Linked DNA regions of Homo sapiens: regions 2, 3, 4, 5 and 6 are each linked to region 1. The links come from fine-mapping of genetic effects on gene expression. A gene starts in region 1. Each other region holds a variant in brackets. All regions are shown on one strand. Distances are between the middles of the regions. Region 1 holds the start of TMEM119 (transmembrane protein 119). Region 2 overlaps SART3 (spliceosome associated factor 3, U4/U6 recycling protein). Region 3 holds the start of SELPLG (selectin P ligand). Region 4 holds the start of SSH1 (slingshot protein phosphatase 1). Region 5 overlaps SELPLG (selectin P ligand). Region 6 overlaps ACACB (acetyl-CoA carboxylase beta).

Region 1 (4,087 bases):
GACCCACTCAAGTTCTGGCTGGGTCAAGAATCCCGGCTCCATCGCATCCAGCTCTGTGGTCTGGCTCCTGTGGGCCTCACTTTCCCCATCCGTAAGTTGGGACAGGGTGACCACAGGTAGCACCTCTCAGAGCTGTTAGGGCCAAATGAGACAACTTTCAGAGAGTGCCTGGTGCGAAGTAGCTGAGCCCCGAGGAAAGATAGGGTCTGGGGTAGCTGAATTCCTTCCCTAGCCGAACTCCAGGTTCAGCCAGCAATTTCCCACCCTGAGTCGACAAATGAGCACCATCGCCGGATGGGAACATGCGCTCACTGTCTGGTCCGGCCGCCACCCAGTGAAAGACCAACCTTTTCACCCCGTTCAGTGAAACCTCTTTAGCTCTGGCCGCCAAGGAATGCAGAACCAAACACACACATGCACACACATACACATACACACACATGCACACATACACCTACACACACATATACATACAACACACACACACACACACACACGAAGTCAGAGGCAGAGGGCAAGAAAGGAGAACACACAAACTGCCACTGGCTCTTTAAGGCTGAGACCCTGACTCTCAGAGTCCCCTGCACCCCACAACCCCTCCTGGCTTCCAGGGAAAGGTGGGGGCAACGTATGGAGGACCCAGCCCCACCTGCAGTCAGCAGAGCCTCAAAAAAGATGGTTGTGTGGCCCTGGACGGCCCCTGCCCTCTCTGGGCCTCAGTTTCCCATCTGTGGAATGAAGCACTGTTCTGGGCAGCTCTGAAGTCATTATTCTGCCTACCTCCCCCCGGACCCTAATTTTTTCAAGGACTCAGAATCTAACAGGCCATTAGGAGCTGGGGTCAGGCCCAACGCCTCTTGCTTCACCTTAGAGGTAACTCAGGTCCAGAGACTGGAAACAGCCTGCCCAGGTCACACAGAAAGTCAGGGGTGAGCCCAGCAGAGCCCTGGACAGAGAAGCCTGTCTTGGTATATCCCAGAGGAGGTCACTTCCCGGCTATGTGTCCTTGGGCTGGGCATGTCACCTCTCTGAGCCTCGGTTTCCATATCTGTACAATGGGGATAAGAGCCACCTCCCTGGACTGCTGTTAGGACAAGATGCGGCCATGCCTGGTGCACAGTGGGTGCCAATTAGCAGGTACCACGTGATTGCCCAGGACTCCCTGCCTGGGGACATGTCAGGCAGGGCTGGCCGTGTGTAAGTGTGGCAAATGCCCTAAGATGGTCCTGAGTCTGTGGAGGAGTGCAGATGCACCCCTGAGGCCTGGGGGCCCCAAGACTTGAAGCTAGGGGACCGGGGGCTGCCCCACCCCCACCCAGAGACTGGTGGCCTTTGGGGGAGGGGCGGCCCACGGAAACCTGGCTTCAATCAGTGGCCTTGTGGGGGAGGGGTGTTCTGGTTGGAGCACTGCACATGCCCCCGACCCCAGGGCCAGCCAAGGACAGGGACCTGGGCCCTGGAGGTCTGGATGGGGAGGGGGGTCCTGGGGGCACAATCCCCCTCCACACACACACACACACACAGAGCAGCATGGACACACAATATAAAGACACACAACACAGGCACACCGACTCACACAGCACTGAGACACCCAACAGCACTCTCATGGCCCATGCACACAATACACAGAGAACACACACGGACACACAACACATATACATACACAACCCCCTGACACACAGCCGATCCCTGCACACAGGACAATACCGTCCACATCACCCTCACACAGATCCTGGAAGCAACAGCCTGGCATCCACTTGCAGAAAAGTGGAAGCAACACACCCCCTACACCAAGGCCCCAGCCGCACACACACAACACTCCGGCCCACCCTGGCCCACCCCAGCACCGCACACGGGACTCAGATTCCACCACACTCATGCACACAACACCAAACACACACTCAAAGCCCACACACACTTAGAGAGGCCCCCCAGAGTGCTCCAACAGTCCCCAGTCCCTAAGCTCCAAGATAGCTCCAGGCTCTCAGGACAGAGGAGGGGACCCCAGGACTCACCAGTTCCTTGGCGTACAGGACTGGGTGCTCCCGCCGAATGGAGCGAGAGTGGGGGGCACCTGGGCTGGAAGAGAGAGTCCGTGCTGGTGCCCGGGGCTGCTCTGGGCTGGCGCCTGCCCGCCCTCCCTCCTCCCGTCCCTCCTCCCGTCCCTCCTCCTTCCTCCCTCCCCGGCTGGGCCGCAGGGCCAGCTTGATTTCATTAAGAGGGTTTGGGGTGGGGACAGGGGGAGGGGAGGGGCTACTCTCGGGCCACACGCAATCCCACCCTTGCTCACACTCTCGCTCTGGGGAAGACCAGATGCGGCACTTCCTCCCTGACCTCGGGTCCCCAGGGCAGGCTGAGACAGACAGACAAGGCTGTCCTGCAGCGCTCCCCCAGACAGTGAGCTGGGGTTCTGCCCACGCTGCTGCCCAATACCCTCCAAAGGGGACAAGCTCAGGGAGGTTCAGAGGCCTCTGGAAGTGGGAAGGAAAATTCCCCGTCCTTGTGTGGCTCAGGCTTCCAGGCTCAGGGTGCAGCGTGGGAGCTGGGATTCGTTTTAGAGACAGGCCTGATGGTGGGTCCGAGCCTGAGACAGGGAGCCCAACTCTGCCCTTCCCTCTCCAGACCTCAGTTTCCCATTTGTAGGGATGGGTGGGAAGCTTTCTGGGCTACCTCTGACTCTGATGTTCTGGGATCTGTGGCCTCACAATGCCCCCAAATGATAGTAGCTTGAATAGGAGTTGGAGCCCCATTTCACAGAGGGGGAAAGTGAGGCAGGGTGAGTTCTAATGGTTCAAGCAGGGTCCTGAGGTGAGTCAGTGGCAGGCCTTGGAACCGGGACGTCTGGCTGACCTGAGGAGTCCTGTGGATTAGCAGCCCCTTGCATTCATTCATTCATTCATTCATTCATGCATTCATTCGGCAAGTGCTCAATGAACACCTGCAGCAGGCCACGCACTGTGCTAAGCAAGTTCCAGAGGTGAATCAGGCACAGCCCAGCCTTGGGGAGCTCACAGACTACCAGGGAGAAGGACACCGAGGTAAATTACTTTTTTGCCAAACAGAAAGGGGTCAGGTCAAGGGCTCCGAGAACCCCAAGACAGAGAGATCAATCCCCCAAGGGAAAGAGGTAGGAAGCCATCCTGGAGGGCATGCCTGTGTATGAGCAGAAGCGGGCAAAGCAGGCCCTGGAAAGGCATTCCGCATGGAAGGACCAGCGTGGGTAAAGGTATGGTGGCTGGGAATGCCACCACGCACAAGCCACCGCAATTAGATTAGGCTGGAGCATGGACCAAAGAGAGGATCATGTAGTAAGGGTCAGAGATGTTGACAGGAGCCAGGCTAAAGTCTCGGAAGGTCGGAGGCAGTACGGAGCCAGTGAGGGTTTGGAACAGGGGAGTGCATGAAGGATGAGTGCGTGCTCTCTGGGTAGGAACCAAGCCTAGATTATCATTGTTCCCTGCAATGGTCCCAGCAGCCCTCGCTCACCCCCAGAAAACTGGGACAGTCATTTGCTTGGGAAATAAAATCAGAGACTTTCCCATCTTCTCTGGAAATCACCCCAAACCCTGCATCTTCGAGGGAACAGGGGACCATCCACCAATACTCGCACAGACACATTCATGCACACACATGTCCCAGGGGCAAGTGGCCACCCACAGACATGTTGTAGCAGCTGTGCCCGCTTTAAGGTGGCCAGGGGTGTTCCAGGCCTACCTGACCTGTCTTAGACCAGACATCGGGTGGTCAGGGGCAGCCAAACCTCCCCCAGGGCCCACCAGCAGGGGAAGAAGACCTTACCCAACATTCTGAGGGCTGCAGTCTGGGGACCTTGGGATGTCGAGGAGCAGGGACACAACCAACCCAAATAGAGCCTGCTCCCTGCACAGGTGGCCCCAGAGGCCCAGCCTGAGGGAAGCTCTCGGAGTCCCCTTCCCCTCGTTCTTTGCTTCTCCCTCCTGGGCAGAGCATCCCCCTGAAGGAGGGGTAGTAAGTGTTGGAGACATTGGCAGGAGCTGGGCTAAAGTATTGGAAGGTCACCTAGGAGGCAGTAGGGAGTCAATGAGGGTTTGGAGGGTTTGTTCTGGGA
Region 2 (4,087 bases), 75 kb before region 1:
TTCTGGGAGAGCAACAGATCCAAGATGGTGATTTCCATGGGCAAGAGACCCAGAAGTTGGATAAACCGCCTACCTAGGTGGGCAAGGATGAATTACTGATTTTTTTTTACTAACAAACAGTCAAGTAACTGAAGTAGTTTTTCACATTTCTATTTATCATCAGTTCTGGATTTTCTGGGGAAAACACACAAACCCACTCATGTAGTCCTGGAAATCCATTTCTAGAACAGTCAACACCCGGAACCTAACTGGGTTCTGCTCAAGCCTGAAAAGGTTTGCCCCTGTACCAAGCCTGGGCTGACATCTGCAAGTGTGACATTAAGGTCAGAATACTGGCTGCAGGCAAAGCCAAACCGTTAATGTGAAGCAGCAAAAAGTAAGGCCACACTCACCCATAGTGATATTCAGGGCTCTTCATGTGTCAGGTCCCCAACCATGAGGGCTCTGAGCTACCCAAATCATCACACCAGCTGAACAGTCCATCAGCCTTCCAAGCAGCATCACAGAGAACACTGCAGGAGGAACGCGTGGGACAGCAAAGGTTCTTGCTGCTGTCAATAGCCGCCGCTTGAATTTAATTCAGAAGTAAAGCCTAGTAAAAAGTTGGTTTTGTATAAAAAAGAGATGGAGGGGAACCTACCTTTTAAGACTTAAGAGGCTTACCAACCAATAATTTACAGGGAGGAGAGCTGATATTTGTAGGAAGGTGGAAATTTGAGTGGACAGTTGATGACATGAAGGGATTACCACTAATGTTTCTAGGAGTGAAGGCCTTTCAGTCCTCCTGAGACACCTGCCGCAACATTACTGGATGAGCACAATGACATCTGGAACGTGCCTCAATATAACAGAGGGTGGAGGGGAAACAGACATGAAGGAAGAGGGGCTGGGAGTTGAGGAATGCTGGAAGCTGAATGGTAGGCACACAGGAGTTTATTTTACTGTTCTGTCTACTTTTTAATCGGTTATATTAAAAAATGTTAAGTTAAAAAAATATAGAAAACCCGACTGATGCACAAAAACTTAAACTTACGCAACAGATAAATGAGGAGTTGATTCCCACGACATATACAAGGATTCCCTGACGTCTTTCTCCAGAGTGTCTTAATAAAGCAAGCTTCCCCTACTGAACTGGCCAATGCTGTTGCTGTTTTCAAAGCAGTAAATATTATTTGATAAAAGATGTGAGGTAAAAAAGCTCAAAAGCTCCAGTGTCAAACTGCTATAAAATGAAGACACATCACAGCTGGAATAATTTAAATCAAAGTGACAATGGGATTTGACTTACAAAAGTTCTATTTACACATCTATTAGGTAAAGCAAGGTACACCCACTTCAAAACACATCTGTATGTGAATGCACATCTGAGTACCATTCAGCAAGAAGTTTTGAAGAGAACGTCAGTTTAATAAAGCTAAATGGGGAGAATTGAAGTTTGCATTTGACATGGTATTAAACAAAACCAAAGGGCTGAAACTCATGTTTAGACAACACAGGTCACTAGTCACTAGGCAAAGAAAACAGTCCACAGCAGGTGGCACAAATAATTCCTATACAAAACAAATGTTGCAAATATTCTGCTTTTAGGAAACATGAAACAATGGCTGACATGTCATTTACAAACACATAATATAAAAATGCACAGCCCCATTGAACAAAACTCCAGCAAATGTTTTATAGCTGACTTCCCTCAGACCCACCCCCACAAGAGGCCATTCTGTGAATTACTAGCATCTGCCATTTCATCTTTTAAAATTAAAAGAATGACGGGCACATGTGCTGTGCAGGGTGGAAGAGAAGTGTCATACAAAAAGGGGCCGGAGCTGGCCAGAAACATTTGGACAACTGTGTCTCAAAAACAGTGTGTTCTCGTTTCGCTTCTGTGCCTCAGTCTTTAAGATACAAAACTATCTCAGGACACCACATCCTGGGCCCAGCCTGCAGAGTGGTCACTTTTCTGCCACTGCCCTCAATATGAGGGAGCACTGAAAGGCTCTTGACTTAGAACCCCTTCCCCTTTCTGTCTAAAGCCGAGGAGCCATCTGTGGTTGCGAGCACGCAGCACACCAGGCCTGTCCATCCCCAGTGCACTGCTGGGTGGTGGGAGGTCCGCCGGGCCAGAGTGAAGTAAGGCATTTCCTGTCTCCCAGCGTCCCGTTCACTTTCTCAGAAACAGCTTGGCAAAATCGGCATTGGACATCTTGGGTGCCTCGGTGGCTGCTGGGGCGGCAACTGCAGGAGC[C/T]GCGGCAGGGCCGTTCTCAGCCTGAGGAGCTGCAGCACTTGGGCGCTGCAGGGCACGAGGCAGTAGAGACAGCTGCGTCCTTCCCTTCCCCCTCCTAAAAGAGCAAACACTGAATGGACCTTTTGAAGCAACAATTCGTGGCCCCTCATTTATTTGTGAAAATAAGCCAAGACAGTTTTAATATAACCAGAAGTTAAAAGGTGAAAAAAAAAAAGGATAAGATAATCCCTGCCTCCTTAATTCTGTTTATGAAGTAAAAACTGCTTCAACAGACTTGGCCTTGTTCAGTTTTGGCAAAGATCAACCCTGAGCACCAGTCACACTCAGAGGGGATCAGTGTGACTATCACCTCTCAGACCTCACCAGTCACCTGGCAATTCTGCTATCTCCTCCTCATCCCAAACCAGCGAACAGCACAGCTTATGTGGATCATAGCTAGGGCCGTAGACTGGCACACACATGGGTATGAGATTTCTTTGTAAACACACAGATCCAACTGGCAAAGGGGACTTTAAAATAATCACTGCCTTATTTCTGTCTGAAATAAATGACAAGTGTAAATTGGCCAGTACCAGGCAGAGGTCACTGCCTAGGCTTGCATCCTGCTCTGGACGCCTTGCTCCAGTGGAACCACAGTGATTACCACAAGGAACAGCACATCTTGGCTTTTCTGTCCTAACAGGAAGCTAATTCATCCCGGGTTAATCCCCCCGTGATCCATGAACTGGTGCCAGCCAGGACGAAGTTTGCACTAGTCTACCATGCAAGCACTTACGCTCCGTATGTCTGCGGCAAAAGCATGGGGCCACCTGGTGCCTTCCTGGTCTCCGGCTTCTCTGGAACTTTCCTCTGAGGAGGGTTGCTGATTGCCACTTTGATGATGTTCTCTTTGATAGTCATGCCGTCCATCTTCATCACAGCCTGCGACGCCTGGGATTCATTTTCATACTCCACGTAGGCCAGGCCCTGGAAGAGGCAAGATCCAGAACCAAGTCAGATCCCGCAGACTAGGGACGCAACCTCCTCCTGCAGGGCAGGCACTGGGCTTCCTCCCGGAGACCAGCAGACCAGGCCACAGCAAACGACCCACCAACAGGTTACCTTCCCCACCACCGCATCCTCTGTCTACAGGCTTATTTCCCCACCCTACTCTCCTTCCCGAGTGCTGCTATGCACTGTAACTTCAGATAACCCTTCCAAGTTCAGCACACCTTGTACGTGCTGCAGAAGTAGAAAGAAAGAAGGAAAAAGACAGATGGACCAGTATAAATCCAGCAAATAAACCAAGAGGTGGATGGGACACAGGGCCAGCAGCCCAGGTGCCCAGGTGAGCCCTCGTGTTTCTGTGCCTTCACCCGCTCCCTCATTTCATCCTCTTTTTCTCTCCATTAACCTGGATAAAGGGGAGGGAGAGTGGGCAGTGGGTAGACAGTAATGAAACCACTTACTACTCAAAATGGGGCACAAAAGGACTTAGCAGGAGACTGAGGGGGCAAGAAGGAAAGACAGGAGAAGAGGCACTGCAATGGAGGGACTCAAGGGGCCTGGTTGGAGGCCCCAGAGAAAGAGAGGCCTGGGACAGAGGGAGAAGGCTGCAGGAGGGCGCCCACCCCAAAGCCCGTATGCTGCTGGTCACAGGGCTTCCCCCAAGCCCCACAGCCAGGGGCCATAGTGTGGTGAATTCATGATCCTCTATTTCCAAGTGTCTTATTCTTTTTAGTACAATTAACTACAAACAGGTTAATCTGACTCCAAATATAAGTAGAGCTAAGTGCAGATCTTTCTGTGAAATTAACTTTTGTTTCTCAGCAGACAAACTAGGAACCCATTCTAGAGGTTAAATCA
Region 3 (4,087 bases), 34 kb after region 1:
ATAATACCTCCTTAATATTTGCTACAGTAAATGTATTATACAACAATAAAAATGACATATGTGGAAGCCCCTCCCACGGAGGGATGATTTCATCCTCTCACTATCTGGTGACCTCATTCCTCCTCACCCCTGTGTTCACTGGCTCTAACGGTGCCATCACACTGATTAGCAAGCAAGGCCCGGAGCGGCGGGATCACTCCCAGGCCCCACCTTCCACCTCTCCTCTTCCTGGAAGGCCAAAAAACAGTCCCACAGAAGTGGGGCCAGGGCAGGGCTCCGACAGAGGCGTCTCCAGTGACCACGTCCTATTTGTCTCAACACTTGCCTAACAGAGTAGGTCAGAGACTGCTCGTTTGCCTCTTTCGCCCTAAAACCAGGCTGCTTCTGGCCCAGGCCCCATCTAGACCCCATATGGGCCCCATCTAGGCTGTGTGGAGGAGCAGGCTGCAGGGGGCCCAGACTCCAGCTCCAGAGAACCCGCCGTGTGGCCGCCCTGAGCTGCTCAGGAAAGATCCTCGTGGGGCTCCACGCCGCTAGGAACCTTGCACTGAGAATCCTGAAACTGGTGGTCAGAGCGGGCAGGATCTTGGAATGCTAAAATTCAAAAGACTGAGCATCTCAGGGTTTGGGTCAAGTAGTCACCAAGAGAAGGAAAGACCCCAGATAACTGAGGCACAGGCAGCAGATCTAAGTCTGGGTAGACAGGACAGGCCCTGCCCTGCCCTGCTGTGCCCTGGGAGTCACATCAAACCAGGTCAATCCCCAGCTCTGTCCCTTAGAAGCTGTGTGACCTGGGGCAACTCACCTCACCTCTCTGAGCTGTGGGTTCCTTAGCTGGAATACAAGGACAATGGTAGCACCCGCTTTTTATGGGGTTGTTGTGGGTTGAAGAGGGCCAGGGAAATGCTGAGTCCTCCCAGAAGCCTTTCCAGATTGCCCCAGGCACGATTAGTCACCTCCCGTGTTTAAATCATTTCTGCTGTTCATTTATTTTCTAAAAATGTATTCACATTGACTCCTAAACTTCCAGAAGGCAGGAACCACAGCTGTCTTGCTGATCAGGCCACAGGCCCAGGATTCAGCCGATGGGCAGGCACACACCCCTCGCAACACTCGCCCCAGTGGCTGGCAACCACTGTGGCTGTCTGCTCTGCTGCCCCCACCAGACCACAAGTTTTTGGAGGGCAGGAGCTCTCCTGGGTCTCCTGGCATCCCCAGGGGCCTCACTAAATGCCTCTGCAGAAGAGGACATGTGACTGAGGCAGGGGAACGTGCACAGAACTGCACAGCACGTGCTGTCTTCACACTTTTCACACCACATTTGCCAGCTGACACTTTGCAACCTCTTTCCGTCATCTACCTCAACTCACATCAGGGAGTCTCTGTAGACATTTTTTCCCACTTATCATCGCCCTTATGAAAGGTTTATTTATTTATTTAATTTTAGAGATAGGGTCTTTCTCTGTTGCCCAGGCTCGACTACAGTGGTGCAATCATAGCTCACTGCAGGCTTGAACTCCTGGGCTCAAGCGATCCTCCCAAGTAGCTAGGACTACAGGTGCATGCCACCAGACCCGGCTACTTTTAAATTTTTTGTAGAGATGGGTTTTCCCCATGTTGCCCAGGTTGGTCTCAAACTCCTGGGCTCAAGCAATCCATCTGCTTCAGCCTCCCAAAGTGCTGGGATTTATAGGCATGAGCCACGGTGACCAGCCCTCCTCATGAAAAGTTAATAGCACAGATATGCTGTATATCTGTTTAATGTTTGGTGGCTTGCAAACCACAGTGTTAGTTGAGATTTTTTTGTTACACCCCCCTCCCTACCCTCCACCCCACCAAGAACCAAGTTACACCTGTTGGAACCCAAACTTGCTGGCCTGATCCAGAGGCAGTAAGGTACTTGGCACAAATGAATTCAATGAGACCTACATCTGGTTAGTTGAACAACTGTCTTTAAACAGTTTTCTAAACACCCCTGTGTAGACAGACAGATTAACAAACACAGACCCCCAACACACACACACCAGCCATCTTATCTCCTTCTAGACCACTGGCCCCCACTGCCATCTTCCTGTTCAAGTTCAGCAAAGGAAGCCGAGACACAGGCCTAGGGTCACCACGAACTCCATGGGCATCCTGCAGCCAGAAGCCATGCCGCCAGAGGCAGCTGCTTCTCCCCTTCAAGCCTCAGTTTTCTCATCTGTAAAAGGGGCACTGTCCACCCTCCAAGGTTCTCGGATGATTGATTCCCCAGCTCCTCTGAATGCCCCACTCTGGGCCCAGCCTAGCA[A/G]CCCAGCCCTTCCGCTCTCTGAGGTTTAACTCCCCTGGCTGCTGGCCAAGCCTGCTGAGGGAGGCATCAACCACCCAGGGCACGGCCTCGGAAGAGACTCTGGGGCTGTCTGAGGGCCTGGGAGCCACCTTCTGAGGCCCCGGCCCACTGAGGGGCCTGGCTCTGGGGGCCTCAAAGTCAGAGATGGAAAAAAAAGGAAAACAGAAGAAAGAGGAAAGAGGAAGAGAATTCCAGGCAACAGAAGCCCAGATATCGACAATATGGGGTGTGTGTGTGTGTGTGTGTGTGTGTGTGTGTGTGTGTGAATGTGTGTACAGCAGGGCACAACTGGCCCCCACCATTTCCTTTTAGTGTCCTGAAAGTATCTCAAATACAAACTAATAAGAGTATTCTAATTTTTTTTTTTTTGAGACAGGGTCTCACTCTGCCACCCGGGTTGGAGTGCAGTGGCACAATCTCGGCTTACTGCGACCTCCCCCTCCCAGGTTCAAGTGATCCTCCCACCTCAGCCTCCCAAGTAGCTGAGACCACAGGCATACACCACTACACCTAGCTAAGTTTTTGTATTTTTGGTAGAGACGAGGTTTCACCATGTTGCCCAGGTTGGTCTAGAACTCCTGAGCTCAGGCCAACCACCTGCCTCGGCCTCCCAAAGGGCTGGGATTACAGGTGTAAGCCACTGCACCCAGCCAAATATTCTAATTATTATTATTATTATTGTTTTCCCTTTTGCTAACAATAGTATCTTAATTCTAATATTTTAATAGTTTGCCACAGACAAGTGTCATTTCCTCAGTCTTATAAAAAGTGGGAAGAATGCATCTTTCTCTGAAAAGAACTTTTTTATGCGTCCATAACATGCAGCTTCAAGAGAAATCCTGCACTCCCCCTACTTTCTGGAGTCTTCCAGACCTAATCTCAGCTCTGCCCCTAAACAAATCCCTTCACCTCTCCCGACCTCAGTTTCCCATCCAGGAAAGGAGAGGATAAGATCATTTCTAGGGAAACACTCATGGTTTCTCTGATTTTCAAAATCAGAATGCCGCCAAGCCAGACGCTGCAGGCAAACTGGCCAGGGAGGGAAGTAAGTTAATGGGAGGCTGGGGCTGGTGGGTCACACCTGTAATTTCAGCACTTTGGGAGGCCAACGCAAGAGGCTTGAGGCCAGGAGTTTGAGACCAGCCTCGGCATCAAAGTGAGACCCCATCTCTAGGAAAGGTAAAAATATTAGCTGCATGCGGCGATGTGCGCCTGTAGTCCCAGCTACTCAGGAGGCTGAGGTGGGAGGATCACTTGTGCCCAGGAGTTTAAGGCTGCAGTGAGCCATGATTGTGCCACTGCACTCCAGCCTGGGTGACAGAGTAAGACCCTGTCTCAAAAAAAGAAGGAAAAAAAAAGTTGGCAGGAGCAGGATTCAGAAGAGTCACAGAATAAGGCCACAGACTCCAGGAAGACTTTAGTCTTGAGTCGGAGGAGCCTCAGTTTGCCCTCCCCAGGTGCTGCAGCTCAAGAAGGGCCTGGCGGTCCTACCCGGGCCTGCCAGCAGCTATAAGGCAGGCCCTTGGCCCATGGGGACCTCCAGCCACTCCCTGTGGTTTTGCAAGCCAGCACTTACCACCGTGCTCAGCAGAGCATGGGACAGCTGCCTCGTGGGCCCAGAAGAAGTGGCTTCTCTGCTTTAGTGACAAGGTCCCAGCCCACGCTGCCAGGCACTGCTGTGGCACCCCCTGCGGCAGTCCCGGATCCGAGCAACCCCCAATGGCTGTGTGTGGAAGGAGGAAGCGAGAATGTGGTTAC
Region 4 (4,087 bases), 260 kb after region 1:
GCCGGGCCCGGGGCCTCCTGGAGCCGCGCGCGGGCGGCCGGGCCGAGCCGGGCCGGGCCCGCCCCTCCCCCTCGGCGTCGCCACCGCCCCCGCCCCCAGCTCCCGCCTCCCGCGCCGGCGCGCGCAGGCCTCAGTGCGCGGAGTGGGCGGGGAAGCGGGCAGGGCGGGACGAGGAGGCGCGCGTGCGCGGGGGCCCTGAGGGCTGCCCGAGGCCTCGGCTGGTCGATCACGTCCCTCGCGCGCCCGACACACGCGCCCCCGCCCGCGCGCCCCGCTATCAGGCCTGGGACTCGGGGGCGCGCGCGCCGCCCGGAGCCCGTACGCCCCAGGGGCCCTGCCCGCTGCTCTGCCTGGGGAAACTGAGGCCCGGCGACCGTGCAGACAGGACTGTACAGCGACCAGGAAATAAAAGACGTCCTGGGGCCGGGCGCGGTGGCTCACGCCTGTAATCCCAGCACTTTGGGAGGCTGAGGCGGGCGGATTACGAGGTCAAGAGATCGAGACCATCCTGGCCAACATGGTGAAACCCCGTCTCTACTAAAAAGACAAAAATTAGCTGGGCGCAGTGGTGCGCGCCTGTAGTCCCAGCTACTCGGGAGGCTGAGGCAAGAGAATCGCTTGAATCTGGGAGGCGGAGGTTGCAATGAGCTGAGATCGCGCCACTGCACTCCAGCCTGGGCGACAGAGCGAGACTCGGTCTCAAAAAAACAAAAAACAAAAAACAAAAACAGTAAGCAAAATAGATTCGCCTGATTTTGCAGAGGTTAATCAAGTTATTAGGCACGTTTTTAAAAAAGTATTTTGCTAATCTTTTTCAATGAATTCTTTCTGGGTGTTCTGAAACCCAGCCAACTCCTTGGAGGTCAGGGAAGGCTTCCCAGAAGAGCTTTATTCTGAGGCTTGGGCTTGAGCATAAGCAGGATTAACAGGTGAAAGAACAGAGAGACAGCTCTCCAAGCAGGGGGGATCAGCGTGCCCTGAAGCAGGAAGAAGTTTGTCAACCGGAGGCCAGCACTCAGGGAAGGGAAGAGGGGAGGAATGGCTGGAGTCTCCATCCTCTCTGGAAAGATCGCTCCGGCTGCTGCGTGGATGAGGGACCACGGGGCAGAGGGCTGAGGGAGACCAGGGAGGAGGCTGCTGCTGTTGTCCCGGGGAGAGGTGACCAGTTATGGGGATGGAGAGGGGAACATGGAATAAGATACCAAGAAGGCAATTCTGGCTTGACTTAGTAGTAGGAAACTTTTCTTTTAGCCAAAATCTCATCTCCCGGCTCCCACCCCCAACCTCTGCATGTTGCACAAGCACTCGCAAACGCAGTGGTCCCAGCCTGCCCCGCAGCTTAGCAAATTTGTCTTACTGCCCAACAGGAAACCCACGCAGCCTCCTGGATTCTTCCCCGTCCCTCCCTCTGTCCTGGGGCTGTGACCTCCTCCATGTTATTCACAGGGTCTCAGCACGATTCATCTCAAAGGTGATTCTAGTGGGGGGCACTGTAGCTTCTACGGAGCGTTTCTAAGAGGGGATTTGTGGGAATGTTTGTGGTTGTCTTGCTGATGGAGGGGGAGAGCTCCTGGCATTTAGAGTGCAAGAGCCTTGGATGCTAAATGTCTTCCAATGCACTGGACAGTCTCCCCAACAAGAATTGCTCCATTCCCACAAAATGTTTCCTGGGTGAAAAACCCATTTATAGTAATTTGAAGCCAGAACCTAACTCCATTTCATGCATCAACACTAG[TCTTC/T]CTTCCTTCCTTCCTTCCTTCCTTCCTTCCTTCCTGCCTTCCTTCCTTCCTTCCTCTCTTTCTCTCACTTTTTTTCTGAAACAGGGTCTCACTCCCGTCACCCAGGCTGAAGTGCAATGTCACAATCATAGCTCACTGCAGCCTCCATCTCCCAGGCTCAAATCATCCTCCTGCTTCAGTCTCCTGAGTACAACGGGTACACACCACCACACCCAGCTCCTTTAAAAAAAAAGTTTAACTATGTTGCCCAGGCAATCCTCCTGCTTCCGCCTTCCAAAGTGCTGGGATTACAGACAGAAGCCACCATGGCTAGCCTGGTATTTTTTACTGAATTTTCAGAAAGGTGACTATGTTGAAACCCTGTCTCTCCTAAAAATACAAAAAATTAGCCAGGCATGGTGGCGGGCACCTATAATCTCAGCTACTCAGGAGGCTGAGGCAGGAGAATCACTTGAACCCGGGAGGCAGAGGTTGCAGCAATCTGAGATCGTGCCACTGCACTCCAGCCTGTGTGACACAGCAAGACAGAGAGAAAGAGAGAAGGGAAGGGAGGGGAGGGGAGGGGAGAGGAGGGGAGAGGAGGGGAGAGGAGGGGAGGGGAGAGGAGGGGAGGGGAGAGGAGGGGAGGGGAGGGGAGGGGAGAGGAGGGGAGAGGAGGGGAGGGGAGAGGAGGGGAGGGGAGAGGAGGGGAGGGGAGGGGAGGGGAGGGGAGAGGAGGGGAGGGGAGGGAAAGGAAGGGAAAATACACTTTGTTTTGCTTGAGAGTTTTGTCAAGAGTTGTTCATCCATCCTTAGGGAAAAGGAGGTAATGGATGGCAACGCCTCTGCTAATATTAGAGCATCCCACACAAGGTGCCCACAACTGTAGCTGCACTCTAGGTAGACAGACAGTCATAGGTACTTAAATGTCAAATATAAGGGAAAATTGTGGACAAAATTCAGTTGAGTAGAGAATATTTTATTTCTCAAATCCAAGCACATTGATTATTGGCAGGCCCATGCTTCTGAGATGCCCCTGTGTCCTCTAAGGGAGTAGTGGCTGAGCATTTCCACATTGTAATGCATGTTGTTTCATTATGATTTATTTTTCTTTTATGTCTCTCTTACATTAGTTTTCAAATTTGAGAGTTTGAGAATCCCCTGGAGAAAATACAGATTGCTAGACCCCACCTCCCAGAGTTTCGAATTCACAAGGTTTGCTGTAGGGCTGGAAAATTTGCACGTCTAACAAATTCACAGGCAATGCTGATGCTTCTGTCTGGGGACGACAGTCTGAGAACTACTGCCTATACAAATGCAATGGCCTCTTCACCAAGAAATTCCTACCTAGATCTGATCCTGGTACCCGTCCGTGGCCCCCAATCCTAATCCCCCTGCTCTGGCCGGCCTGCTTTTCCACTCACCCCAACTTTTTTGGAGGCAGTCTCCACCCCTTCTCACTTCCTCTTAGAGCTGAGAGCCCTTTTCTTCCCCACAACTAACTCTTGCTAGAAATCACCTCCAAAAAGCTTTCCCTGCCCCTTAAGCAGTGTCATTTCCAGGATCTCGTAGCCCTCACCCTACCCTTAAACACACAGCAAGTGTCAGTCTGCCTTATCATAATGGGTCCATCTCTCTGTCTTGTCCCATTACCGTAGAGCCAGGAACGGTCCCTAAGAAAAGCCTCAGGAATCAGGCTGGGACCAGCGTGAGGGTGCAAAATGTAAGAGGGTGCCCCCAAAAACTCAATGATTAAGATAAATAGTATTTTAATGCAATATTTTAGAAAATCAAAATTAATGCCAAATCCATGATGAATAAAATATTTTTAAAATTTGCTTTTTTTTTTTTTTTTTAATTGAGACAGAGTCTTGCTCTGTTGCCCAGGCTGGAGTGCAGTGTGGCACAATCTCTGCCTCTTGGGTTCAAGCAGTTCTCCTGCCTCAGCCTCCCGAGTAGCTGGGATTACAGACCCCCACCACCATGACCGGCTAATTTTTGTATTTTTAGTAGAGATGGGGTTTCACCATGTTGGCCAGGCTGGTCTCAAATTCCTGAAATCAGTGATCTGCCTGCCTCGGCCTCCCAAAATGCTGGGATTACAGGTGTGAGCCACTGCACCTGGTCAAAATATTTACAAAAATTTTTTAAGAGCCAAGGTCTCATTCTGTCACCCAGGACTGGGTGTAGTGGTGCAATCCTAGCTCACTTCAGCCTTGAACTCTGGGCTCAAGCCATCCTCCTGCCTCTGCCTCCGGAGTACCTGAGACTACAGGTGTACACCACCACGCCTGGCTGACTTTATTTTTGCCAGAAACTGGGTGTTGCTATGTTGCCCAGGCTGGTTTCAAACTCCTGGAGGCACTCAA
Region 5 (4,087 bases), 25 kb after region 1:
TACTCAGGAGGCTGAGGCAGGAGAATCACTTGAACTCAGGAGGCGGAGGTTGCAGTGAGCCAGATCGCGCCATTGCACTCCAGCCTGGGCAACAAGAGCAAAACTCCATCTCAAAATAAATAAATAAATAAAATCCAGTTCTAACAAGAACTCTGCTAAGTCAGCTTAGCAACAACCCTCCCCCCACCACTCCATATCTGATCACCTCCCATATCTGATCACCTCCTATATCTGATCACGTTCCTCATCTGCCACCATCCCCCCGGTGATGTCTGAGCACCCTGGCCTGCCTCCAGTATGAATCCTGTTAGGTCAGTGTAGAAAATGACCGAGAACCCATCCCCAGCAGTCAGTTTAGCCAGAATTCCCCTTCCCCTGATGTTTCCTCTTGGTAATTTTCCAGCTGCAGATATCCAACCCTGTTCCCTGGCTATCAGCTCCCACTTGCCCCTGCTGTACTCATAGTTGAGCCCAAATGCCCCCACTGCAAAATCCCATAGCTGCAGTCCCTGCAGTGATTGAGAGAGTCCCACTCCCCTTGAACAAAGTCTTCCTTACCATGCTTTAACAAGGGTCATTGAATCTTTTTTTTTTTTTTTGAGACGGAGTCTTACTCTGTCACCCAGGCTGGAGTGCAGTAGCGTGATCTCAGCTCACTGCAACCTCCCTCCGCTTCCCGGGTTCAAGCAATTCTCCTGCCTCAGCCTCCCCAGTAGCTGGGACTACAGGCATGTGCCACCACACCTGACTAATCTTTGTATTTTTAGTAGAGACAGGGTTTCACTATGTTGGCCAGGCTAGTCTTGAACTCCTGACCTCAGGTGATGTACCTGCCTCGGCCTCCCAAAGTGCTGGGATTACAGGCATGAGCCACTGCTCCCAGTCCCATTTTTTTTTTTCTTTAACAGGAGGATAGATTGATGTTTAGAGGGATATTGGTCCGAGGTTTGGGGGGGACCAAACTCTGTGGGCCAAAACTGGGTAATGGAGGAAGTGGAATAAAGTGGTCACTGGTGGGGAAGGGGCAGCCCTCCCTTTGGCCCCCCATAGCCTGAACTTTTCCTGGTCACCCAAGGATGTACAAGACCCCCTGTTGTCCAAGAGGCAAAACTGAAGTCAACCTAACAGCCCATGAAAGAGGCTTCCTGGGGGGCCAGGGGCTGAGGGCAGACAGCTGAGGACCAGCCCCCATCCTGCACTGAGGGATGGAGAATTCCGGGAAGGCTGCCTGAAGGAGACAGCCTTGAAACCTTGAAGGATTCCGCTATCGTTTGTCCATCACATATTTATTGCCTGCACTGGACCTGCAGTTGGGATACTGCAGTGAACAAGACAGAGTCCACCCTGGAAAGTGGCCACAGGGGAAGGCAAGAGGCGATAGCTGGGGGTCACTTGTCACTAGATGGAAGCTCCTTGGTCCACACAGTCCCAAAGAAAGGTCTGCCCTTGGGCCCACGAAACCCATCCCAGCCCTCACAGGCTGAACCTCACCCTGGGTTTTCCCAGAGAGGTGCCCAAGAAGACCCAAGCTGCCCCAAGTCAGAGGAGCAGCAGGAAACAGCCTCAGAAGTCCGTCACTCTTCAGTACTCCTCCCTTAGAATGTCCACTTCCTGTTTGGTGACCATGGCAACCAAAAGACAATGGCAGTGCAGTGCGTGTGGGATGGGGGAGCTCCATCTTCCTTGGGTACATGGGGAGGAGACTCCAGTGACCAGGAGAAGCGGGGAGAGCCATGGGAGATGTTAGAGGGACCCAGAGAAGATGGGGGACAGGAAAAAGGAGAGAATCTGTCTCAAGTAAATGGCCTCCTGCCTTGGACCTCGGCTGAAATGTGGCTGGGCTTCATCCGCGGAGGGAGGAAAGAGGTGGCTCCACTTGCCCGTCTGCTTGGCCCCAGGCTGCTCTTGTCCTGTTTGGGTGGCCAGAGTTCCTTCCCTGAAGATCCCCATCCCCAGGGGTCTCCGAGGAAGCCCAGAGCTGTGGAATGGGGTCTGGGCACTCAGGGGTGGCCCAGGAGAGCCCGTGGAGGTGGGGTCTTGCCAAAACAGATGGCAGAGTGAGCTAAGGGAGGAAGCTGTGCAGGGTGAGGTCATCCCCCTCACGGTCCTCCCTGGGCTCTGGCGTCAGGCCCGGGCTCTTGGCCTTGGACAGGCCCCCATTGGCTGTGGCAGAGGGCCCCTCACCCCCATCAGGCAACAGGGATGAGATGCAGACCATCTCGGTGGGGGAGTAATTACGCACGGGGTACATGTGGCCCTTGCGGGAGAGGCGGACCGCCAGCACCACAGTGCACACGAAGAAGATAGTGGCCACCAGCGCCAAGATTAGGATGGCCAGCAGGCACTGCTTCACAGAGATGTGGTCTGGGGCCCCCACTGGGTAGTTGACGGACAAATTGCTGGCTGCCATGGGAATGCCCTTGTGAGTAACAGAGGACACAGAAAAGGGTATGAACAGACCTCTTTTGGTAGTAGGTTCCA[T/C]GGACAGGGCCTCTGTGGCACTGGGTTCTGTGGACAGGGCCTCCATGGCTGCCAGTGGAGTGGTCTGTGCCTCCGTGGCTGTGGGTTGAGTGGTCTGTGCCTCCGTGGCTTCTGGTGCAGTGGTCTGTGCCTCCATGGCTGTGGTTTGAGTGGTCTGTGCCTCCATGGCTGCTGGTGGAGTGGTCTGTGCTTCCATGGCTGCTGGTGCAGTGGTCTGTGCCTCCATGGCTGCTGGTGCAGTGGTCTGTGCCTCCAGGCCTGTGGGTTGAGTGGTCTGTGCTTCCGTGGCTGCTGGTGGAGTGGTCTGTGCCTCTGTGGCTGCCAGTGGAGTGGTCTGTGCCTCCGTGGCCGTCAGTCGAGTTGTCTGTGCCTCTGTGGCTGCCAGTGGAGTGGTCTGTGCCTCCGTGGGCACTGGTTGAGTGGTCTGTGCCTCCGTGGCTGCTGGTTGAGTGGTCTGTATCTCCATAGCTGCTGAATCCGTGGACAGGTTCCCCATGTTGGCCAGCTCCGTGGTCAGCTCTGTGACTGCCCCTCCTGCATCCAGGCCAGTAGAACGCCTTGCAGCAGGCTCCACAGTGGTAGACTCAGGGGTTCCAGGCCCAGTCAGAGGAGTGGTGTCAGTGCTGTTCCTCAGCATTTCTGGAGGCTCCGTTTCTGGCAGGAAATCATAATCTAGGTACTCATATTCGGTGGCCTGTCTCCGGTCCCGGGCAAGCAGGGGACCCAAGGCTTTCTCGGCTTCATCTGCCCAGGTGTCCCACAGCTGCAAGCTGTTGCCAGGGCCCAGTAGGATCAGCAACAGGAGGAGTTGCAGAGGCATGGCACCTAGGAGGAGACAATGGGCGGAGGGATGTCAAGACAGTTTCACCCTTGGGCTTAGCAAGCACCCTAGACCACCACCCTCTACTGCCACAGCTGGAAGCATGTCTGGTCTGGAGCAGGGACTGGGGACTTAGGCATCCCTGACATGCCTGGGATGGAGAAGATCCTCAGCCAGTAGCAGTTATTATTATTACTCATCAACATGAATAAAGCCATCCAGGAGGGCCCTTTAACTTCTTCTAGATGGTGCATAGAAATTGATTTGCCTCCCTCTCCATTTTGGTTAAGCCACTTTATTTGTGGACAAGACAATCCACTGGGGTGTAGAAAGATTTAGTGCTTCTGCTTCTAGTTCTATTAACTTTTCATGTCACTCCTTTTTTCTTTTTTTTTTTTTTTAGATGGAGTCTTGCTCTGTCACCCAGGCTGGAGTACAGTGGCGCTATCTCAGCTCACTGCAACCTCCACCTCCCGGGTTCAAGTGATTCTCCTGTCTCAGCCTCCTGAGAAGCTGGGATTACAGGCATGCACAACCACACCCAGCTAATTTGTGTATTTTTAGTAGAGACGGGGTTTCACTATGTTGGCCAGGCTGGTCTCAAACTCCTGGCCTCAAGTTATCTGCCCACCTTGGCCTTCCACAGTTCTGGGATTAGGCATGAGCCACTGCGCCCGACCTCATGTCACTCCTTCTTAATTTCAAGTATTACATTATTTATAATCTATCATAAGAGTAAAGTAGTACCTGCACAGAATTCATAAATAGATTAATTGACCACTTACG
Region 6 (4,087 bases), 540 kb after region 1:
GAGTTCTTTATACATTCTGGGCACTAGACTCTTATTAGATATATGGTTTGCAAGTGGTCCTCCCATTCTGTAGGTTATCTTTTCACTTTCTTGATAGCATCCTATGATTCACGAAAGCTTTTAATCTTGATGAAGTCCAATTTACCTATTTTTTCTTATGGTAAATTGGACTTCATCAAGAAGCATCCAATGCTTGTGGTGTCATATCTAAGAATCAATTGACAAATCCAAGGTCATGATGAATTACTTCTATGTTTTCTTCTAAGAGGTTTGTGGTTTTAGCTTTTATATTTAGGTCTTTGATCCATTTTGAGTTAATGATTGTATGTGGTATGAAGTAGGGGTCCAACTTTTTATTCTTGTGCATGTGGAAATCCAGTTGTTCCAGCACCATGTGGTGTTAAAGAGGTAATACTTTTTTTTTTTTTTTTTTTGAGACGGAGTCTTGCTCTGTCGCCCAGGCTGGAGTGCAGTGGTGCGATCTCGGCTCACTGCAAGCTCTGCCTCCCGGGTTCACGCCATTCTCCTTCCTCAGTCTCCCAAGTAGCTGGGACTACAGGTGCCTGCCACCATGCCTGGCTAAATTTTTTTGTATTTTTAGTAGAGATGGGGTTTCACCATGTTAGCCAGGATAGTCTTGATCTCCTGACCTCGTGATCCACCTGCTTCAGCCTCCCAAAGTGCTGGGATTACAGGCATGAGCCACCATGCCTGGCCTGAAGAGATCATTCTTTCTCCATTGGATGGTCTTGATATCCATGTCAAAAATAGATTGACCATAGATGTATAGGTTTCTATTCCATTGATCTATATGTCTATCTTATGCCAAATACCATGCTGTTTTGTTTACCATAGCTTTGTAGTAAGTTTTTAAATTGGGAAATGTGAATCTTCAAACATATTTTTTAAGATTGTTTTGGCTGATTGGGGCCTCTTGAAATTCCATATAAATCTGTATATTCCTTTGGATAATATGGACATCTTAACAATAAGTCTTCCAATCCATGAGCAAGGTATGTCTTTCCATTTATTTAATTCTTCTTTAATTTCTTTTAGTAATGTTTTGTAGTTTTCAGTGTGCAGGTCTTTCACTTCTTTGGTTAAATTTATTCCTAGGTAGGAAACAAGTGTGATAGGCAATAATAGAAAAAGGAAACATTGAAATTAAACATATTTATTTCTAGGTGTTTTATTCTTTTGAATGCTATTATAAATGGAATTGTTTTCTTAATTTCTTTTTCAGATTATTTACCACTGGTGTATAGAAACACAACTATTTTTGTGTATTTATCTTGTATCCTGCAACTTTGCTTAATTATTTTTATTACCTCTACAATACCAAGGTTTTCTGTGTGTGTATTATCTGGCACTTTCTACATATAGGACCATGTAATCTGTGAATAGGGGTGGCTTTACTTCTTCCTTCCTAATCTCTATGTCTTTTATTTCATTTTATTGTCTAATTGGTTTGTCTAGAACTTCCAGTACAGTGTTGAATAGCACTGGTGAAAGTGGGCATCCTTGTCTTATTCCTGGTTAAAGCTATCAGCCTTTCCCCATTTAGTATGATGTTAGCTGTGGATTTTTCATAAATGTACTTTATTAAGTTGCAGTTCCCTTCTGTTCCTAATTTTCTGAATGTTGTTATCATGAAAGGGTGTTGGATTTTGTCAAATGCTTTTCCTGCATCAATTGGGATGATCATGTGGTTTTTTTCCCTTTGTTCCATTAATGTGGCATGTTACATTGACATTGAGCCACCCTTGACTGACTTTTCTTTAAAAAAAACACATGATGATCTTGAAAGGAAAAAACCCCTCTGACCCTGTGTACTACCTAGAAAATAGCCTTGGCAACATATCAGCAAATTCTGCTGCTGAAAGTGTGTAAGAAGTACTTGGATTGTTTAGTTCTGGGAAATATTGAGAACTTTTCCACTTCCTTTAAAAACATTGTGTTGAAATTTAAAAAGAAAAAGCTTTATGGCAGGGCACAGTGTCTCACGCCTGTAATCCTAGCACTTTGGGAGGCAGAGGTGGGCGGATCACTTGAGGTCAGGAGTTAGACACCAGCCTAGCCAACATGGTGAAACCCCATCTTTACAAAAAATACAAAAATTAGCCGGGCATGGTGGGGGGCACCTGTAATCCCAGCTACTAGGGAGGCTGAGGCTCAAGAATCTCTTGAACCCAGGAGGCAGAGGTTGCAGTGAGCTGAGATTACGCCACTATGCTCCCACCTGGGCGACAGGGTCAGATTCTGACTCAAAAAAAAAAAAAGGATTTTTAGATACCAAATTGACCTGCTGAGCTTTGTGGTCCACTTTTGTAATGCTTCTAGTATATAATTGTGGCAAAATTGGTTCAGAAATTTCAACACATAGAGAGAGGTCCCATT[T/A]AAAAATTTTTTTTGAAATAGGGTCTCACTCTGTTGTCCAGGCTGGAGTGCAGTGGTGCCATCTTAGCTCATTTCAACCTCTGCCTCCTGGGCTTTTCTTTTCTTTTTCTTTTTTTTTTTGTTTTTGAGACCAAGTCTCACTCTGTTGCCCGGGCTGGAATGCAGTTGCATGATCTCAGCTCACTGCAACCTCCACCTCCAGGTTCAAGTGATTCTCATGCCTCAGACTCCCGAGTAGCTGGAATTACAGGCACCCACCTCCATGCCCAGCTAATTTTTGTATTTTTATTTTTAGTACAGACAGGGCTTCACCATGTTGGCCAGGCTGGTCTCAAACTCCCAACCTCAGGTGATCTGCCCGCCTCAGCCTCCCAAAGTGCTGGGATTACAGGCATGAGCCACCGCACTGGGCTCATTTTTAAAACAAGATTTCCTTCAAATAACAATGATCTACTCATTAGTAGGGCAGAGTTAGGGTGATAGAAAGAGGTGTGGCTTAGAGATTGGAATACCTGGGTTCATTCTTTCAATACACACTTGTAAGCCCTCATTGCATACCAGGCACTGGTCTAGACCCTGCAACAGAAAACAGTCTCCCGAGGCTTGTTGGGCTTCTATGCTAGTTGTAAGCATACCCCACACTGGGGATGATGGCGCCCTTCCTCCCTCCAGGGCCATGATGGTGACTGACTATATGATAATAATACTAGAATGATGATGATGATGACAGAAGCAACAATTCCCTTTCATTTATAAAGTGGAATATAATTAAGAGTCTTTAAAAAAAAAAAATAACAGCTTTGGCTGGGCGCGGTGGGTCACGTCTGTAATCCTAGCACTTTGGGAAGCCAAGGTCAGGAGTTAGAGAGCAACCTGGTCAACATGGTGAAATTCTGTCTCCACAAAAATACAAAAATTAGCTAGGCATGGTGGTGCATGCCTGTAGCCCAAGCTACTCAGGAGGCTGAGGCAGAATTGCTTGAACCCAGGAGGCGGAGTTTGCAGTGAGCAGAGATTGCGGCACTGCACTCCAGCCTGGGCAACAAAGGGAGACTGCATCTCAAAACAAAAAAACAAAAAAACCCCAGCTTTATTGAGAGATAATTCACATGGCATACAATCCACTCATGTAAAGGACAAGTCAATGTTTTTTAACTGTATTCACAGAGCTGTACAACCATCACCTCAATCTGCTTTAGAACATTTTCATCATCCCAAACAGAAACCCTACACTCTGTAGCCATCATCCCCATCCCACTAGGTCCTGGCAACCACTAATCTGTTTTCTGTCTCTCAAGATTGGCCTGTTCTGCACACTTCATATACTTGGAATCGTATAATATGTGACCTTTTGTGATTGGCTTCTTTAACTTAGCAGTTTTCAAGGTTCTTCCTTGAACCTTGGCAGGAAACTAAGATCCAGAGGGGTGAAGGAATATGTCCAAGCCTGTTTCAGGCAGAGCAGGGAGGAGAACCCCATCTCTCCCCTCGTCCAGTATTTCAGGAATACACAGCACCCCAACAGCCTCCTGCCCCACTAGCTTCTTTAGGAGAGAAATCACTTGATTATGTAAATCCTAAAATGTCTCTCCTTTTCTCCTTACAGATTTTCTGAATGGTCTTGCTTCTTTGTCTATCTTGTCTGATTTTCTCCTGTCTGACCTTTTCCTGGTTAAAAATCTGGGGGAAA

What was found.
Region 2: its variant is fine-mapped to the expression of TMEM119 in whole blood (TOPMed, PIP 0.91).
Region 3: its variant is fine-mapped to the expression of TMEM119 in nasal epithelium (TOPMed, PIP above 0.99).
Region 4: its variant is fine-mapped to the expression of TMEM119 in whole blood (INTERVAL, PIP above 0.99).
Region 5: its variant is fine-mapped to the expression of TMEM119 in blood mononuclear cells (TOPMed, PIP above 0.99). The same link has a PIP of 0.9 or more in T cells, monocytes and whole blood.
Region 6: its variant is fine-mapped to the expression of TMEM119 in caudate (GTEx, PIP above 0.99).

Annotation. Positions count from the first base shown.
Region 1 is chr12:108,595,955-108,600,041 of GRCh38, forward strand. TMEM119 (transmembrane protein 119) reads right to left here and starts at 2,130. Exons shown (of 2, transcript NM_181724.3): 1 at 2,016-2,130.
Region 2 is chr12:108,521,299-108,525,385 of GRCh38, forward strand. SART3 (spliceosome associated factor 3, U4/U6 recycling protein) reads right to left here. Exons shown (of 19, transcript NM_014706.4): 18 at 3,018-3,208; 19 at 916-2,336. The coding sequence ends at 2,159. Among named protein-coding and RNA genes, the nearest start is that of FICD, 8.1 kb to the left of the region's middle. RefSeq lists an enhancer at 3,298-4,087. The variant C/T (reference allele first, on the strand shown) is at 2,243.
Region 3 is chr12:108,629,835-108,633,921 of GRCh38, forward strand. It overlaps SELPLG (selectin P ligand), which reads right to left and starts at 4,060. Exons shown (of 2, transcript NM_003006.4): 1 at 3,906-4,060. All of the region lies in intron 1 of LOC105369968 (a long non-coding RNA gene), which reads left to right. RefSeq lists enhancers at 1,974-2,123, 3,532-3,581. The variant A/G (reference allele first, on the strand shown) is at 2,291.
Region 4 is chr12:108,857,565-108,861,651 of GRCh38, forward strand. It overlaps SSH1 (slingshot protein phosphatase 1), which reads right to left and starts at 19. Exons shown (of 15, transcript NM_018984.4): 1 at 1-19. RefSeq lists a silencer at 1-488. The variant TCTTC/T (reference allele first, on the strand shown) is at 1,736.
Region 5 is chr12:108,621,007-108,625,093 of GRCh38, forward strand. SELPLG (selectin P ligand) reads right to left here. Exons shown (of 2, transcript NM_003006.4): 2 at 889-3,306. The coding sequence starts at 3,301. The coding sequence ends at 2,063. Among named protein-coding and RNA genes, the nearest start is that of SELPLG, 11 kb to the right of the region's middle. The variant T/C (reference allele first, on the strand shown) is at 2,482.
Region 6 is chr12:109,135,394-109,139,480 of GRCh38, forward strand. It overlaps ACACB (acetyl-CoA carboxylase beta), which reads left to right. Exons shown (of 53, transcript NM_001093.4): 2 at 4,004-4,087. The coding sequence starts at 4,013. Among named protein-coding and RNA genes, the nearest start is that of ACACB, 21 kb to the left of the region's middle. The variant T/A (reference allele first, on the strand shown) is at 2,398.